2 separate regions of the Homo sapiens genome follow, and region 2 is linked to region 1. Evidence: fine-mapped expression QTL. Tissue or cell type: subcutaneous fat. Region 1 holds a variant in brackets; the other region holds the start of a gene. All regions are shown on one strand. Distances are between the middles of the regions.

Region 1 (8,229 bases):
CTACCTCAACAAGGACACGCACGACCAGCTGTCAGAGCCCAGCGAGGTGCGCAGCTACGTGGACCCGTCCACCGACGAGCGCCTCAGCTACACGCAGCTGCTCAGGCGGTGCCGTCGTGACGACGGCACCGGCCAGCTGCTCCTGCCACTGTCGGACGCCCGCAAGCTGACCTTCCGTGGCCTGCGGAAGCAGATCACCATGGAGGAGCTGGTGCGCTCGCAGGTCATGGACGAGGCCACGGCGCTGCAGCTGCGGGAGGGCCTGACCTCCATCGAGGAGGTCACCAAGAACTTGCAGAAGTTCCTGGAAGGCACCAGCTGCATCGCTGGTGTCTTCGTGGACGCCACCAAGGAACGGCTCTCGGTGTACCAGGCCATGAAGAAGGGCATCATCCGCCCCGGCACAGCCTTTGAGCTCCTGGAGGCGCAGGCGGCCACCGGTTACGTCATCGACCCCATCAAGGGACTGAAGCTGACGGTGGAGGAGGCTGTGCGTATGGGCATTGTGGGCCCCGAGTTCAAGGACAAGCTGCTGTCGGCCGAGCGCGCCGTCACTGGGTACAAGGACCCCTACTCTGGGAAGCTCATCTCCCTCTTCCAGGCCATGAAGAAGGGCCTGATCCTGAAGGACCATGGCATCCGCCTGCTGGAGGCCCAGATCGCCACGGGCGGCATCATCGACCCTGAGGAGAGCCACCGGCTGCCCGTGGAGGTGGCCTACAAGCGCGGCCTCTTCGATGAGGAGATGAACGAGATCCTGACCGACCCCTCGGACGACACCAAGGGCTTCTTTGACCCTAACACGGAGGAGAACCTCACCTACCTGCAGCTGATGGAGCGTTGTATCACTGACCCCCAGACGGGCCTGTGTCTCTTGCCGCTGAAGGAGAAGAAGCGGGAGCGGAAGACGTCCTCCAAGTCCTCCGTGCGCAAGCGCCGAGTGGTCATCGTGGACCCCGAGACGGGCAAGGAGATGTCAGTGTACGAGGCCTACCGCAAGGGCCTGATTGACCACCAGACGTACCTGGAGCTGTCCGAGCAGGAGTGCGAGTGGGAGGAGATCACCATCTCCTCCTCGGACGGCGTGGTCAAGTCCATGATCATCGACCGCCGCTCCGGGCGCCAGTACGACATCGATGATGCCATCGCCAAGAACCTCATCGACCGCTCGGCACTGGACCAGTACCGCGCCGGCACGCTCTCCATCACCGAGTTCGCCGACATGCTCTCGGGCAACGCCGGTGGTTTCCGCTCCCGTTCCTCCTCGGTGGGATCCTCCTCCTCCTACCCCATCAGCCCCGCCGTCTCCAGGACCCAGCTGGCCTCCTGGTCAGACCCCACTGAGGAGACGGGCCCCGTGGCTGGCATCCTGGACACGGAGACGCTGGAGAAGGTGTCCATCACCGAGGCCATGCACCGGAACCTGGTGGATAACATCACGGGGCAGCGGCTGCTGGAGGCGCAGGCCTGCACCGGGGGCATCATCGACCCCAGCACCGGTGAGCGCTTCCCTGTCACCGACGCCGTCAACAAGGGCCTGGTGGACAAGATCATGGTGGACCGCATCAACCTGGCCCAGAAGGCCTTCTGCGGCTTCGAGGACCCACGCACCAAGACCAAGATGTCGGCCGCCCAGGCCCTGAAGAAGGGCTGGCTCTACTACGAGGCCGGCCAGCGCTTCCTGGAGGTGCAGTACCTGACCGGCGGCTTGATCGAGCCCGACACGCCGGGCCGCGTGCCCCTGGACGAGGCCCTGCAGCGCGGCACGGTGGACGCCCGCACCGCACAGAAGCTGCGTGACGTGGGCGCCTACTCCAAGTACCTCACCTGCCCTAAGACCAAGCTCAAGATCTCCTATAAGGACGCGCTGGACCGCAGCATGGTGGAGGAGGGCACGGGGCTGCGGCTGCTGGAGGCTGCCGCGCAGTCCACCAAGGGCTACTACAGCCCCTACAGCGTCAGCGGCTCCGGCTCTACCGCTGGCTCCCGCACCGGCTCGCGCACCGGCTCCCGGGCCGGCTCCCGCCGCGGCAGCTTTGACGCCACCGGCTCCGGCTTCTCCATGACCTTCTCTTCATCCTCCTACTCCTCCTCGGGCTACGGCCGCCGCTACGCCTCGGGGTCCTCGGCCTCCCTGGGGGGCCCTGAGTCTGCCGTGGCCTGAGGCTGCCTGCGCCCACCCCGCTCTGCATGCGGCCCAGCCCGGCTCCCACCGAGGCGCGGGGGCCGTTTTCAACGCTTAAAGGTGTCTTCCTCCCAAGTGGTGCCTAAAGTTTAACCAAAAAGACCAGACTAATATATTAATATATATCTGCTGTCCAGACAGCCTGTATCTTGGGGGACAGGGCTGGCCCAGCCCTGCTGGCCGCCTCACCCCCTCGGGTCTCCTCACTCCCTTCTACCTGCCACTCACACAGCCAGGTGCCTTGGAGGGTCCCAAGCTGGGCCCCAGCCCACCCTCCTGTCTTCCCAGGGTAGCCCGCCTGCCAGTCCTAGCTGCACAGGGCAGCTGGGCCCAACCCTGTCTGTAGAGGGCCCTGGTGTTTCTAGCACTGGCCTGCACGGTGGGCCTTGCTGGGGACGGGGGGCCCCAGTCAGCCTCTCTCCCAGTCTACCCAGAGAAGCCCCTTCCCCATGGGAAGACGAGGCCCTCGGGCCCAGCCCCCACAGTGCTGTCTGATCTGTGCTTTCCAGCTCACCCCCCACACTCACTCCTGAGACCCCTGGCCTCCGGCGTCAGCCTCCAGCCTCTGTTCCCCTAGTAAGTGCCTTCCATGTCGGCCTCTAACCCCAGGCCCCGAGGACCCAGACCCAGTGGGGAGGCGGACGTTCCAGCCGGCATGGCTGGGAACTGCAGACCTGTCCTCCTGGTGGGTCCAGGGGCCCCTCCAGCTTGTGGAGCCCCACACTGGGGTGCCGCCTGCCCGTCTCTCTCCCATGGAGCCCCAGCCCCCTTTGGGCCCAGGGACACCAGCCAGGCTCTGTGCTGACCCTCCTGTTGCACCCAGCCCTGGTCTCAGCAGCGACCACCCCTGCCTCCACCCTCTGAGCTTTGCATGTTCCACTAACCCCGGGCGGGTGGCAGGTGGAGGTGTCAGGCTGCTGGCGCCTCTGCAAGGGCAGAACACTAACCTGACCGTGGGCGGGGCCTTGCGGTATCCGCCCCCAATAAAAGCAATTCCAACCTTCCCGTGCCTCCGGCCTTGTGTCTTGGGGTCAGGTGTGTGTCAGGGACAGGGTGGACATTGCAGCCCCAGGCTCCAGGCTCTGAGCTCAGCCACTATGGCCAGTCAGGGACGTACGTCTGTGTGCAGCAGAGACCAGGTGCTCGCAGGAGGGCAGCTGAGAGACCCTGGGCAGAGGGATTCAGTGTGGGGCAGGGTGGTGGCCACACTGAGGCCGGGCCCCCTGGGACCTGCTGCTGGTCAGGTGCTGACCAGTCTCCCAGCCCCACCCTTCGCACTATAAGGGGCTCACGTTTCCTTATCTGAGGCGGGGTGTGGTATGCTCCCATATCAGTCACTGGCTGTGGCCCCTTGGCCTCCGGGGAGGGTGCCACATGGCCCCGGGTCAGTTGGTTGCTGCTGGCCGGGCAGCCCTCCAGAGAAGGGGCCACAGGCAGTGGGCCTAGTATGAGGGCCTCCACCACAGTCTGCCATGTCTCGGCCCCATGCCCATCACACTCCGGGGATTCCATCTGGATGGGCTTCTCCAGGCTTCCGACTGGTGGCAGTTTCTGGGAAGACTTAGGGGAGGAGGGAAGCGGGGCCACCCCAGCCTGCAGTAGCCACTGGTCCAGGCTCAGCCGATACTCTTTTTTTTTTTTTTTTTTTTTTCAGGCAGAGTCTTGCTTTGTCACCCAGGCTGGAGTGCAGTGTCATGATCTCGGCTCACTGCAGTCTCCACCTCCCATGTTCAAATGATTCTACTGCCTCAGCCTCCCGAGTAGCTGGGACTACAGGTGTGCACCCAGCTAATTTTCATATTTTTAGTAGAGATGGGGTTTCACCGTGTTGGCCAGGCCGGTCTCGAACTCCTGGCCTCAAGTGATCCTCCCTGCCTTGGCCTCCCAAAGTTCTGGGATTACAGGCGTGAGCCACTGTGCCTGGCCTTCGCCTCTCCTGCTGGTGGGACCCAGGCGTTCACCCTGGGGTCCAAGTCCTAGTCTTCTCGCTCTTGCTGGGCTTTACCCTCCCTGCCCCGGCCCGGTAGAGGGTGCTCTGCCTGCTGGTCCGCTGGAACAGGAGTGGCCCCGGCCGGGTGACCCACAGCCATCGAGCGGGGCAGTGCCTTACTCTGTCCCAGGTGGCTGGGTTTTAGGACCTCTGAGCCCTCACAGCTTAAGAGTTGCAGGGAAAGGAAGCACAGGTTGTCAGTGGGTCACTGGGAGCTGGTGAGTGGGCGGCCACTCCTGCCTCTACCCCTTGGTCCCCAGACCCATGCGGTCCTCTGTGGGGCCACTGATTTAGGCCGAAGACCACATCCTGGAGGACGGGACCACCACAGTCCCAGAGGGTTGGTGTCAGGACGGTGGCACCAACTCTTTCCGAGAAGCTCGCCGACGCTCTAGGCTC[T/A]GCGGCGCCCGTGTTCCCGCTCCCTCTGCACCCCCTTGCCGGAAGCAGTCAGAGGCCCTGGGGGCCGTTACACAGGAGCCCGTCTCCCAGGGCAGACACGGAGGCATCGTGGGCTGGAAAGGTGGGTCCGTGCCTGGAATACCAGCTGTTGTCTTTCCAAGGGGAAGGGGCCTCCAGGGCTGAGTTTACCTCCAAGTGACCGGTTGGTCTCTGGCTGGTTTTGCGTCCAGGGCCCCTGGTGGTCTTTATGGCCAGAGGACGGGATGTGCTGCTGCCGACAGGAGCTGGGCTTGTCATGGGGCGCCTGGCTTCGTCTGGTCCTCCATCGCTCCAGGCGGGAGCCGTGTGGGAGCACCGGACGCTGCGTCACTGGCCGCGTCATTGGCTTGTGGGTGGCTGGGTGCCCGCTCGGCAGCCGGTGCCCCTGGTGAACACCCACAAGTCCCCACGCTGGTGTCCACCCGGCAGTTCCATTCCCCAGTCCGTCTTCCAGCGTTGCCCTTCTCAGGCCCTGACCGGCCAGCCGAGCCCTTCCCCAGCCCTGTCCACGTGTGTCCTTACCATGAGCTGCTCTCCTCTCCTCATGAGAGGCCAGGGATCGCCCCGACCCCTGACTCCAGGGCCAGCCCAAGTGGAGTGGTCCGACTACCATGAACCCAACCGCCATGAAGCAGGCCGGGCTTGGCCCCCACCCAGTCACAGGGACCCTCTGAGGCTGTGGCCTGACTGGCGGGCAAGCTGGAAGCTGCGCCACCTGCCCGTGCAGCCCTCTGGCTCTCATGGCTGGTGCCCGGCAGTGCACCGCCCCTTACCCTGGATCCTCACTGTGCCGCTGACCTTAGCCTGGGTGGGTCTTGTGGCACTGGCTCCTGGTGGGAGCTGTGGCCACACCATCCCCAGGAACTTCTCTGAACAGTCCGCAGTTCTCTGTTGCAGTCGGGACCTCCTTGCTTCAAAACTTAGGGCTGGTGCTGCAGCTCTTTTGGGCCTTGCCGGAGACCCCTTGACGCATCCTTCCCCACCTGCGGCAGGTGCTCCTGGTACAAGAGCTCTGTTAGCTCACAGGGCCTGAGTGGCAGGACTTTGTTCCACAGCCTCACCAGCTGTGCTACCCTTCCTTTTCCTGGGCCCCACTCAAAACGAGAAGCCTCTGTGCCAACTGATAAAAAGATCTGTGTGTGGTATCGTGCCGGGTCTGGTATCGTGCTGGGGCTGGCATCATCCTGCCGTGTCTGGTATCGTGCCGGGCCTGGTATCGTGCTGGGTCTGGTATCGTGCCGTGCCTGGCATCGTGCTGGGTCTGGCATCATCCTGCCGTGTCTGGTATCGTGCCGTGTCTGGCATCATCGTGCTGTGTCCAGAACCCAGAGGCCTGCCATCTGCCAGCTTCTTTCCTGGTGTTAGGAAATGCAAGGCTCAAAACTCGTTCTTGACCTTGGACAGGACGTCCTAACATGCCCAGATCTCTGGACTCCTAAAACCTTCATGACGTGACCAGTCCCTGAATCTTGGCTCAGCCTCTCTCCTGCCCTGGAGTGCCTGTGTCCTAGCAGGACGCTCAGAACGCCTGCCACTTCCCGCTTGCCAGGCCTGGTGGGTGCGATGCTGTCAGTGAGCGGACTTGCGTGTTTGCGCTTTGGTCAGTTGTCTGTGTGTCTGCATGTCTGTGCGCTGCTGTCCACCTCGTGTGAATGGGAACTGCCCCTGACCTCCTCCCGGTGCAGTGGAGAGCCCTCTGCCCAGCCAGGAGCCACAGGACACCGTCTGAGGCTGTGAGTCTGCTCCAGGAAAGACCACAGACAGCACAGCAGCTGGAGTTGGCACTGTGGGGAGACGCTGTGGCTCAGCCGCCGTCCACCACAGTCTACCCAGCTCTTGTAGGGACCTGACCAGCAAATTAAGTGGGAAGATGGTGGCCATCACCCATGCACCCTTTAGGCATCTGCGGTGTTGCTGACGCCGCCGTTTTGACCAGGAGGTTGTATTGTTTTATTTCCTTGGCTGGAGCTGGGGGTAGTTTCTAAGGTTTCCATTTGGTCTTTCCTACTACAGTGATTTTTACTCCATGGGCCAAAAAGCCCATGTGAGGATTTGCTGTTGAGCATGCCAGTTCCAATTGCACGTTCCTGGGCTGGGAAATGATGGGCTGAGGCCTGGGCCAGGACTCCAGGTCCTTCCTGACCCCATATTCCCTACCCAGATGGGAGCCTCTGAGGGTGCTTTGCGCCCCAGGTGTCAGCGTCCACTCAGACCCTGATCTGGGCGTCTTCCTCTCCCCAGGGCACAGTTGTCCAGATAAGCATCTTTGGGTCCCTGGAGGGACTGGGGGGTCACTGCTGTCCACACTTGGAGGCGTGAGGCCTTTCACAAGGGGACCTGGCCGCTCTTTCCATTTGTGGGCTCTGGCTCTGAGAACTGGCTGACATAAGGAAACAAAGCAAGTGGTTGTGTTTTCCATCAGAGCAGTGGGCCTGGACTCACTCACTCGTTTTAAAATTTGTGGGTGCCGCGTGCTGAGCCAGTGTCCTCCGAGTGTGCCCCGGGACCACCTGGGAGCTTGGAAGGGGCAGAGCCTTGGCCGCGGCACAGACCAACTGAGTCAGAAATCCTGGGCCTGGGGCTCAGCCAGCTGTGCTTTAAGGAGCCCTCCAGGGGCTGCCATGTGCCTGAGTGTGAGAACCAGTGTAGTGAGCAGCTCCTTGCAGGCTGCCCATCTGCGTCTCCTGTCAGACTGTGGCGCTCCATGAGCCAGCTTCATGGGCCCCCATGGTCAGGGTCTTCTGGCCGCTGCCCCCACCTTCCCTCCCGCTGCCAGCACGTCTCAACAGGTGGGAGCTCCAGCGGCTGCACTGCCATTGGTGCCAGGCTGACAGCATCGCCAGGCAGTCGGTGGTGTTCTGACCAACTGTGGCATCTGTGCGCCAGGACCACGTCTGCGCCCCCCCATCCCAGGCAGGCTCCCCAGGGCGGTGCCTCAGTTACACATGGTTTCTGGAGAATTCTCAGAAAAGGGGTGCAACAAGTGGGGAGGGCAAGGAGCTGGCAAAGGGGGCTGGAGCCGTAGCCCTGCCCCACGGACATCTGAGAGGCAAGGGCACAGCTCAGAGGCTCTGACTCCTGCCCACACGTGGGTCTGAGCTGCCTGTGGGGTGGCACGTGGTCCTCAGGCATCTCTGAATGAGCAGCTCTTGTCAGCCAAGGGCAGTGTTCTGGAGGAGGACACAGGTGAGCGTCTGCAGCAGCTGGGGAGGGGAACAAGGACACCCAAGGGGATCTTGGAGGATCGGCCACGGCAGCTGCCTTCACGGTGGCAGCTCCTCAGTAGCAGCGCAGACGGACCGAGAGACCCTTGAAAACTCCTCCCACGTAAATCCGGGTAAAACTTAAATAGCTTCTCGGGTGCATTCTGACGTTACCAAAAAGACAAGGAAACCACCAGGGGTGAAAGAGAAAGGAGGGTCCTCAGTGCAGCGGCTGAGCTGACGCTTCCCGAGGAATTTGCTGATCCTGGAAGGCTGAAGCCTCGGGTTTTAAAGGTCCTCAGGAACAGGAGGCCGGGATGCGGGCCGTACAGCCAGAGGCCTCTGTGGCATCCGGATCCTCAAAGGGCTGCACCCAGCGAGAAAGCGGGTTCTCCGACGATCCAGCCACAGAA
Region 2 (8,000 bases), 180 kb before region 1:
CCTAGCCCTCAGCACCCCCAGAAGATGGACGGGGAACTTGGACGCTTGTTTCCCCCATCATTGGGGCTACCCCCAGGCCCCCAGCCAGCTGCCTCCAGCCTGCCCAGTCCACTCCAGGTGGGCACGGGACTGGGCAGGGAGGGCCAGGACAGCCATGGGCATTGGAAAGAGCAGGGAAGCAACAACTGTCTCTCTTCCCCCAGCCCAGCTGGTCCTGTCCTTCCTGCACCTTCATCAATGCCCCAGACCGCCCTGGCTGTGAGATGTGTAGCACCCAGAGGCCCTGCACTTGGGACCCCCTTGCTGCAGCTTCCACCTAGCAGCCACCAGAGGTACCAGAGGTGGCACAGGCAGGGGAGGTGGGGGGCAGGGCAGAATCCACAGGAATGACCCAGCTCCTCCCCCACAGGTTACAAGGGGAGAGTGGCCCTTCCCTCACAAGTCCGACATCTCCAGGCCCCCACTGAACTCCGGGGACCTCTACTGACTGCTTGCTGGGACAGTCACCAGGGTTGGGGGGAAGGGCCACAAAATGAAACCATTAAAGACCCTTAAGAGCCAGCAAGCATCCCTTTCATGGTGTCTCTGCAGACCTGCCCCATCCTAGCCAGCGATACAGGGAGACAGGCCCTCATCAGCAGGCGGGGCTCCCCAGCCAGACCCCGGTGTTACTGAAGAATGGGCCCGGACCCTGAGCCTCAGTGGTCAGGAAAGCATGGCATGGGGATCTCTTCCCAGACCCCAGAGGCCTACAGAGCCCCCCACCCAGCTGCTCACCACTGGGCTGAGGCTGCTGGGGTGTGCCACATACTGAGCTGCAGCCCCCACCACTGACCTTGTCTCCTACTGTCCACCCTGGTCCCCCAGGCCTGCACCTCTCTTGCCTGCAGGCCTATTGGTACCACCTTTCTCCCATTCAGCTCTTGCCTTCCTTGGACTATGGCCACCACTCCCCTCAGCTCTTGCAGCTAGGACACCAGCAATGAAAATGGGTGTTTTCCTTCCCTTCCTAGGGACGAGGGAAGCTCAGGAGCTGAGTCCTGCACCAGGTCACTGGGCCGGTGCTGGGTCATGTCTCTGTGACCCTCCTAGATAGCATCCACTGTCTCCCTCCCTCAGCAGCATGCTCCTGTGGGAACCCAGCTACTGCCAGCTTCTGGCCAGGACCCACCACCTAGCTACCCTGTGGACTGCTAGGAGGGGCCACTCCATGACACACATCCTGTCTGTCTACTTGACTCCTTCACCTGGCTGGGAGCCATCCCCTTCCTCAGCCCAGCCCAGCAATAAATAGCCCCTGCCCTAGACCAGGCCTTTCCCCTGTTAAAATGCAGCCAAGGTTCCCTGCTGCCATCAGAATGGGGGCCAAGTGGTTCAACACCTTAACACTTGGCTGTTCATTCCAACAGGTCCCTGGGCCACATCCTGCCTGGCTAGGCCCTTTTCAGCTCTGTGCTCAGACACACCCCACCCCACCAAATGCTGACTTCCTCTAACATGCAGTTCTCCGCTTTCTGTCCCACACCCACTGTCTGGACTCCCAGCTACCAGTCAGTGCAGGGCATTGCTGGCCACACTGCATGGGACATCCTGGGAGCCTTGTGAAGGCAAGGGTCTTGGTATCAGAGTTCCTTGCAAACGTGCACTCTTTCCATATAATAACTCAAATATGTACATTGAGAAAATTAATTTATTCCCATGATGGGGGCTGAAGGAGGGCCCAGAGCTAGAGCCTGGTCTCCTGCCCCCTTGCCTCTTCTTCCAGATGAAGAGAGGCTTAGCTGAGGCCTGAACAGGCCTGGGATGGCTCTTGGGCTTGAGGGCCTGTTCTGGCAGGATGGCAAGCAGACACTGGACAGGGTCACTTGGGCGGCCGATATGCCAGCTTCCGACTCTTCAGGACTGACCACTTGTGCCGCTTTATGGTGTAGACCAGGGGCACCAGCAGAGCCATCATCATCAACATCTGCAGACAAGGAAGGCTCAGAGAAGGGAGTGGGGAGGAGCCCTGCCCAGCTCCCAGCCCTTCTCTGATACCCACCATGGCCTCCCAACCCTTTTACCTTGAGCCCCATGCGTTTTCGATGGTCGTGCTCTGGCTCAGATGCCCAGCGCAGGAAGGTGCACACATCCTTGGCTATCTGGGACATGGTAGCTGGGGTGCCTGGCCAACGACAAGCAGTGAGGGCTATTCTCAGGCTCATGTCCAACCTGGGATCATGCCCCCCCTCTGTGAAGCAGACACTGCCCCTACCCAAGGCATCAAAGGGGCAGTACCCTCCACCGGACATACGCAAAACTGAAGGAGCCCAAAAGCCTCCTGAGACATGCACAGAAGACGCCCCAGACAAGAAGTGGGCAGGACCTCCTGGACCCAGGAACACAGGGAAAGCATCCCTGGGGGTAGTGGAGAAGTATTCCACATGCCCACTGCCAGACTGGAGGCCTCTTACCATCGTCAAACTCTAAGACATCTGTGTAGATGGGAGGGGCCATGGCAATGGCCTGGCCAGGAAAGTAGGGGTTGAAGTAGAGACCTTCCCGCAGTGACACCCCGGTGGGTGGCTCGCAGTAGCCCGTGAGCAGGGAGAAGACGTAGTCCTCACCACCATGCCTAGGACCAGATCCATGGCTCCTTAGTTCCAAGCACAAGTCAGCCCTTCCCCCATCTCTCCAGCACCACCCCATGGGCAGCCCGTGTACCTAGCTCGCACGATGTAGCTGAGGTCAGGGGGCAATGCTCCGTTGTTGGCAGCTCGAGCAGCCTCACTGTTGGGGTATGGTTTTGGGAAATAGTCGAACAGCTTCCCTGGCCGCATGAACATCTCCCCATCTTCATTGGGGCCGTCTTGAACCTCCACCTGCCACCGAGAGCCTCATCACAACCCTGCCATCTCAACAGTGGGAGCCCTGAGCCCTGGGTCCCAGGCATCCCCAGACCCCACACCTCCGCAGCCAGCTCCTTAGCTTCATCCTCCGTGTAGCACACGCCCACCAGGTGGCGGTAGGCCACGAAGTCCATGCTGTGGCAGGAGGCGCACACCTGCTTATATACCTGGAAACCCCTCCGGATGCTGGAGGGAGGGAAAGGGTTAGGAAAGCTGAAGATTCCACCTTACCAGCTCCACCCAGAACCTCCCGCTGCCAGCCAGCCAGCCAGCTGCACACCTGGTGTGGTCCAAGGAAGAGAGGAGGCCACGGTGAGACCACGGATAGCTGGGGGGGTGCAGCTCCAGGTCACTGGCACTCACAGCCGAATGCAGAGCCATGGCCAGCCCCGCACCCCCTGCCGCCAGCATGCCCAGCGCTGACAGCATCACTTTCCGGCCTCGGGAAAGGCCAGACTTCGACGACAAGGCCACTGCCTGCAAGATCTCCGCTCAGCGCCTGCCAGGACACCACCCAGCCCTACCTGGGGATCTGACTCTCAGCGCCCACCTCTCCACCCAGCAATGGCCTCCTCCTGCAGGGCACCAGACGCACACCCTGTCCCACTACCCACCCCATCCCTCTCCGCCGCTGACCCCTAGACCGTGATTCGCTCTCAGGAGAGGGTGTTCCTGGATCCTGAGCCGGGGATCAGACCGAAGTGACCAAGGGTGCTGGGACAGGCCAAGGTCACAAGCAGCTGGCCGAGATCAGGCTGGGGTCACTTCAGGACGCGGGCCCAGTTTGGACAGCCAGCCGCAAGAGCCGTCCTGGGCGCGCCATTCGGGAAAGCCCCAGCCCCGCCACGGCAGCTAGCCCGTCCCGCCAACCCCCACGCTGGGGACGGGCTCTCTGCCGTTCGGAGAGGTGGGCGCCCAGCCCTGATCCCACACGCTCAAGGTCGGCAGGCAGCTGGGACCGGGGACGCTGGGTGGCCGGTACCGCTTCCGCGCTGCCCAGGCCCGCGCCCGCAGCCTCCCCGCCGTGACCTTCACGGAGATGCGGGGCCGCGCGGAGGCCGGGGCCCGGCCCAGCGCTCACCTGAGGTGTCCGTAGCGGGAGCTGCCCGGGACGCGCGCTGCACAGCAGACCCCGGGCACGCGCGCCCGGGAGCCCCGCGCCCCGCGGGCCCAACACTACCCCGCGAAGCGAAGCCGCAGCTGCCGCCATCTTGGCCTCCTCCGCGCGGCCGCCACTCCCGTCGGCCCCTGGGGCGCCACGAGAGTCAAAACCTCGCGAAAGCCGGGGAGCGCGGGGCGGGGCCGGGCTCGGGGGCGGGGCCTGTCGGGTGGGCGGGGACGAAGCGCGCTGGTCCCGGTCGCGTCAGTCAGGGGCCGGGGCACCGCCTGCCTCCCCACGCTCTTCGGGTTGTCGTGGAAACTGGCGGTGGGGCGGGGCCCCGTCGCGTCTCTCTGTTGCCGTGACAGCGCCACGCTCCGCCCGGCGTTTCCCACGCCGCCTCCGAGACCCCGACGCTCCTTTTCTCCACCTTCCCAGGCTGCGCGATGGCCGGGTGGAGGGTGCCCCTGCAGGCTGAGGACCTCCAGAGAAAGGGCGGCTTGGAGGGCAGCCCGGCAGAGGGCGCGGGCAGGGGTCTCGGCCGCAGGCAGCGCGTGACAGCGGGAGGCTGGGCCCCCAGGCTGAGCACCCTGTTCTCCTTCATTCCCTTGACTCATGGCCCGACGCGTGATGCGCGCCTTGGGTCCTAGCGCTTTGGGAAGCTGAGGCGGGAGGATCGCTTGAGCCCCGGAGGTGGAGACTGCGGTGAGCCGAGATCGCCACTGCACTCCAGCCTGGGCGATATCGAGCGAGACCTCGTCTCAAAAAAGTAAGTAAATATGATCTTGTTATGTGAGAATATTTTTATTGTAAAATATTTAAAAAGTAAGCAAAGGCCGGGCGCGGTGGCTCACGCTGTAATCCCAGCACTTTGGGAGGGTGGGGCGGGCAGATCACGAGGTCAAAAGATGGAGACCATCCTGGTCAGCATGGTGAAACCTTGTCTCTACTGAAAATACAAAAATTAGCCAGGCGTGGTGGCGCGCGCCTGTAGTCCCAGCTACTCTGGGAGGCTGAGGCAGGAGAATCGCTTGAACCCGGGAGGCGGAGGTTGCAGTGAGTAGAGATCGTGCCACTGCACTCCAGCCTGGATGACAGACGGAAGACTCCCTCTCAAGAAAAAAAAAAAAGCAAATAAAATTTAAAAACTAGGCTGGGTGCGGTGGCTCACGCCTGTAATCCCAGCACTTTGGGAGGCCCCAGATCACTTGAGGTCGTGAGTTTGAGACCAGCCTGACCAACATGGAGAAACCCTGTGTTATATGTAAAATGTTTATTTAGAAACAGAACGCTTGTTCCCTGGTACCATAAGGAAAGATCAGCATTCCGACAAAAAGTTCTCTCAGCAAGTCAATTTTACTTTCTGCAGAGAGGGTGCTCCTCACAGATGGAAAAATGGTGAGAGCACACCTGAATAAAGGAGAGAAGCTATTTTTATCCCTTACACAGCTTGTCCCTGCTACTGTGTCCTGTCTCCATTGGCTAGAGCCAGATGGCACAATCTAAACTAAAAGTCGACTGGCTAATAATTTAAAACTTTTCTAAATAGATAAAGGCAAGGGAGAACAGAGGAAAAGAGGAAGTTGCTTATGCCAAATAGGGAAGGGGCACAGGCTGTGAGCTGGAACGTGCCTGTGAGCACGTCCAGCACAAATATTTTGGTTAAGGTACAAGGACATAGAATGTACTACCTGCCTGTGAGCATGTTTAACAGCTACATAAGATAGAGCTTAAAGAATTATTAGCAAAACCAAACACCACATGTTCTCACTCATAGGTGGGAATTGAACAATGAGAACACTTGGACACGGGAAGGGGAACATCACACACCGGGGCCTGTTGTGGGGTGGGGGAGAGGGGAGGGATAGCATTAGGAGATATACCTAATGTAAATGACGAGTTAATGGGTGCAGCACACCATGGCACATGTATACATCTGTAACAAACCTGCACATTATGCACATGTACCCTAGAACTTAAAGTATAATAAAAAAAGAAAAGAAAAGAATTATTAGCACAAAACAAGGAGGCTTGAAGGAAGTTAGTCTGTAAAAGAAACTATTATTTCTAACACTTACGATTTATTCTTTAACAAGAAGGGAAACTTTGAAGAGGAAACTTTTTACTTTCTACACACCATCTCTACTAAAAATACAAAATTAGCCAGGTGTGGTGGCGCATGCTTGTAATCCCAGCTACTCCAGAGGCTGAGGCAGGAGAAGCGCTTGAACCCAGGAGGCGGAGTTTGCAGTGAGCAGAGATCACGCCACTGCACTCCAGCCTGGCAACAAGAACGAAACTCTATCTCAAGAAAAAATAAAATAAAAAATAAAATAAAAATCCAAAATTAGTTGTCAGTGAAAATGGAGAAAGACCCCTAAAAAATGTGCCCACCCCTCACCCAATAAGAGCAAGAAAAACATAGCAAAAATGATCAGAATCAACTTTTACAAAGCTATGGAAATTAATCAAAGGCTGTCGTCATCCCAGGGGGTGTTATTCAATTAAACAGGTGACTATCAGTAAGAACAGTGGCCTTTGTGGGTTGTAGCTTTCCCTGGTTCAACCCTGCCCTCCAGCTCAGTGGTAATCTTGGAAATAAGAACCTACATTCCTAGTTACTGTGGGAGCAAAATGCCCTCATTCGCACAGAACCTCCGTTATTGAACGTGTCTGATGGCTGCCTAGAAGACTCCTACCACATTGGCTCAGGGCTTGCCCAGTGCCAGCTGCCTGAGGTGATGGATAACAGTTGCCACAAACAATAGACTAAACAAAAAGCTAAAAAGGAAGAGCAAGGGAATGAGATGTCCACAGGCGCTTTGAAAAGCCCAAAACATTTTTGGGAATACAGGTCATATACACACGGAGGACTATGGATATATACTCAGGAGAGACCTGAAAAAGCCCTAAACTCTCACCTCTGGCTGACCTTGAGGCTCTACACAAAGGGAAGTCTGAGGAAGAGAAATTTAAAAAAAGAAAGAAATATGAACTGGGCCTCAGAGACCTGTGGGACACTATTAAGCATACCAACATATGCATAATTTCAGTCCCAGGAGTAGACTAGACAGAGAAAGGAGTAAGAATACTTAAAAAAAAAAAATGGCCAAGGCTGGGCATAGTAGCTCACACCTGTAATCCCAGCACTTTGGGAGGCCGAGGCAGGCAGATCACCTGAGGTTGAGAGTTCAAAACCAGTCTGACCAACATGAAGAAACCTCGACTCTACTAAAAATACAAAATTAGCCAGGTGTCATGGCGCATGCCTGTAATCCCAGCACTTTGGGAGGCCGAAGTGGGCAGATCACCTGAGGTCGAGAGTTCGAAACCAGCCTGACCAACATGGAGAAACCCTGTCTCTACTAAAAATACAAAATTAGCCAGGCATGGTGGTGCATACCTGTAATCCCAGATACTTGGGAGGCTGAGGCAGGAGAATTGCTTGAACCTGGAGGTGGAGGTTGCAGCGAGCCAAGATTGCACCATTGCACTCCAGCCTGGGCAACAAGAGTGAAACTCTGTCTCAAAAAAAAAAAAAAAAAGGCCAAAAACATGCCATGTTTCATGAAAAACATGAATCTGCACATCTAGTTTTTTTGTTAAACAAACACTAAGTAGAATAAACTAAAGGAGACACATAACAAATTGTTGAAAGACAAAGAATCTTGAAAGCAGCAAGAGAGAAGTGACTCATCACATAAAAATAATTCTTGGCCGGGCGCGGTGGCTCACTCCTGTAATCTTAGCACTTCGGGAGCCTGAGCCAGGCAGATCACCTGAGGTCAGGAGTTCGAGACCAGACTGGCCAATATGGCAAAACCGTGTCTCTACTAAAAATACAAAAAAAATTAGCCGGGCCTGGTGGCATGCACCTGTAATCCCAGCTACTCCGGAGGCTGAGGGAGGAGACTCGCTTGAACCCGGGAGGTGGAGGTTGCAGTAAGCCAAGATTGGACCATTGCACTCCAGCCTGGACAACAAGAGCAAAACTCCTTCTCAGAAAAAAAAAA

Which allele goes with the higher level. Alleles are on the strand shown, and positions count from the first base shown. SD is a standard deviation of normalised expression in the study named.
As copies of T replace A in region 1, the expression in subcutaneous fat of the gene that starts at base 4,122 in region 2 goes down (small effect, 0.33 SD a copy in FUSION).

The links. PIP is the estimated chance that this variant, and not a neighbour inherited with it, causes the effect.
Region 2: it holds the start of CYC1, and the variant in region 1 is fine-mapped to the expression of CYC1 in subcutaneous fat (FUSION, PIP 0.95).

What each region holds. Positions count from the first base shown.
Region 1 is chr8:143,910,112-143,918,340 of GRCh38, reverse strand. PLEC (plectin) reads left to right here. Exons shown (of 32, transcript NM_201384.3): 32 at 1-3,188. The coding sequence ends at 2,164. Among named protein-coding and RNA genes, the nearest start is that of PLEC, 25 kb to the left of the region's middle. RefSeq lists a silencer at 2,034-2,229. The variant T/A (reference allele first, on the strand shown) is at 4,575.
Region 2 is chr8:144,091,198-144,099,197 of GRCh38, reverse strand. It overlaps CYC1 (cytochrome c1), which reads right to left and starts at 4,122. Exons shown (of 7, transcript NM_001916.5): 1 at 3,970-4,122; 2 at 3,169-3,365; 3 at 2,948-3,074; 4 at 2,704-2,861; 5 at 2,454-2,614; 6 at 2,064-2,164; 7 at 1,673-1,966. The coding sequence starts at 4,098. The coding sequence ends at 1,862. It overlaps SHARPIN (SHANK associated RH domain interactor), which reads left to right. Exons shown (of 9, transcript NM_030974.4): 7 at 1-117; 8 at 204-332; 9 at 410-561. The coding sequence ends at 320. RefSeq lists enhancers at 2,904-2,953, 5,418-5,712 and silencers at 3,853-4,048, 3,994-4,283.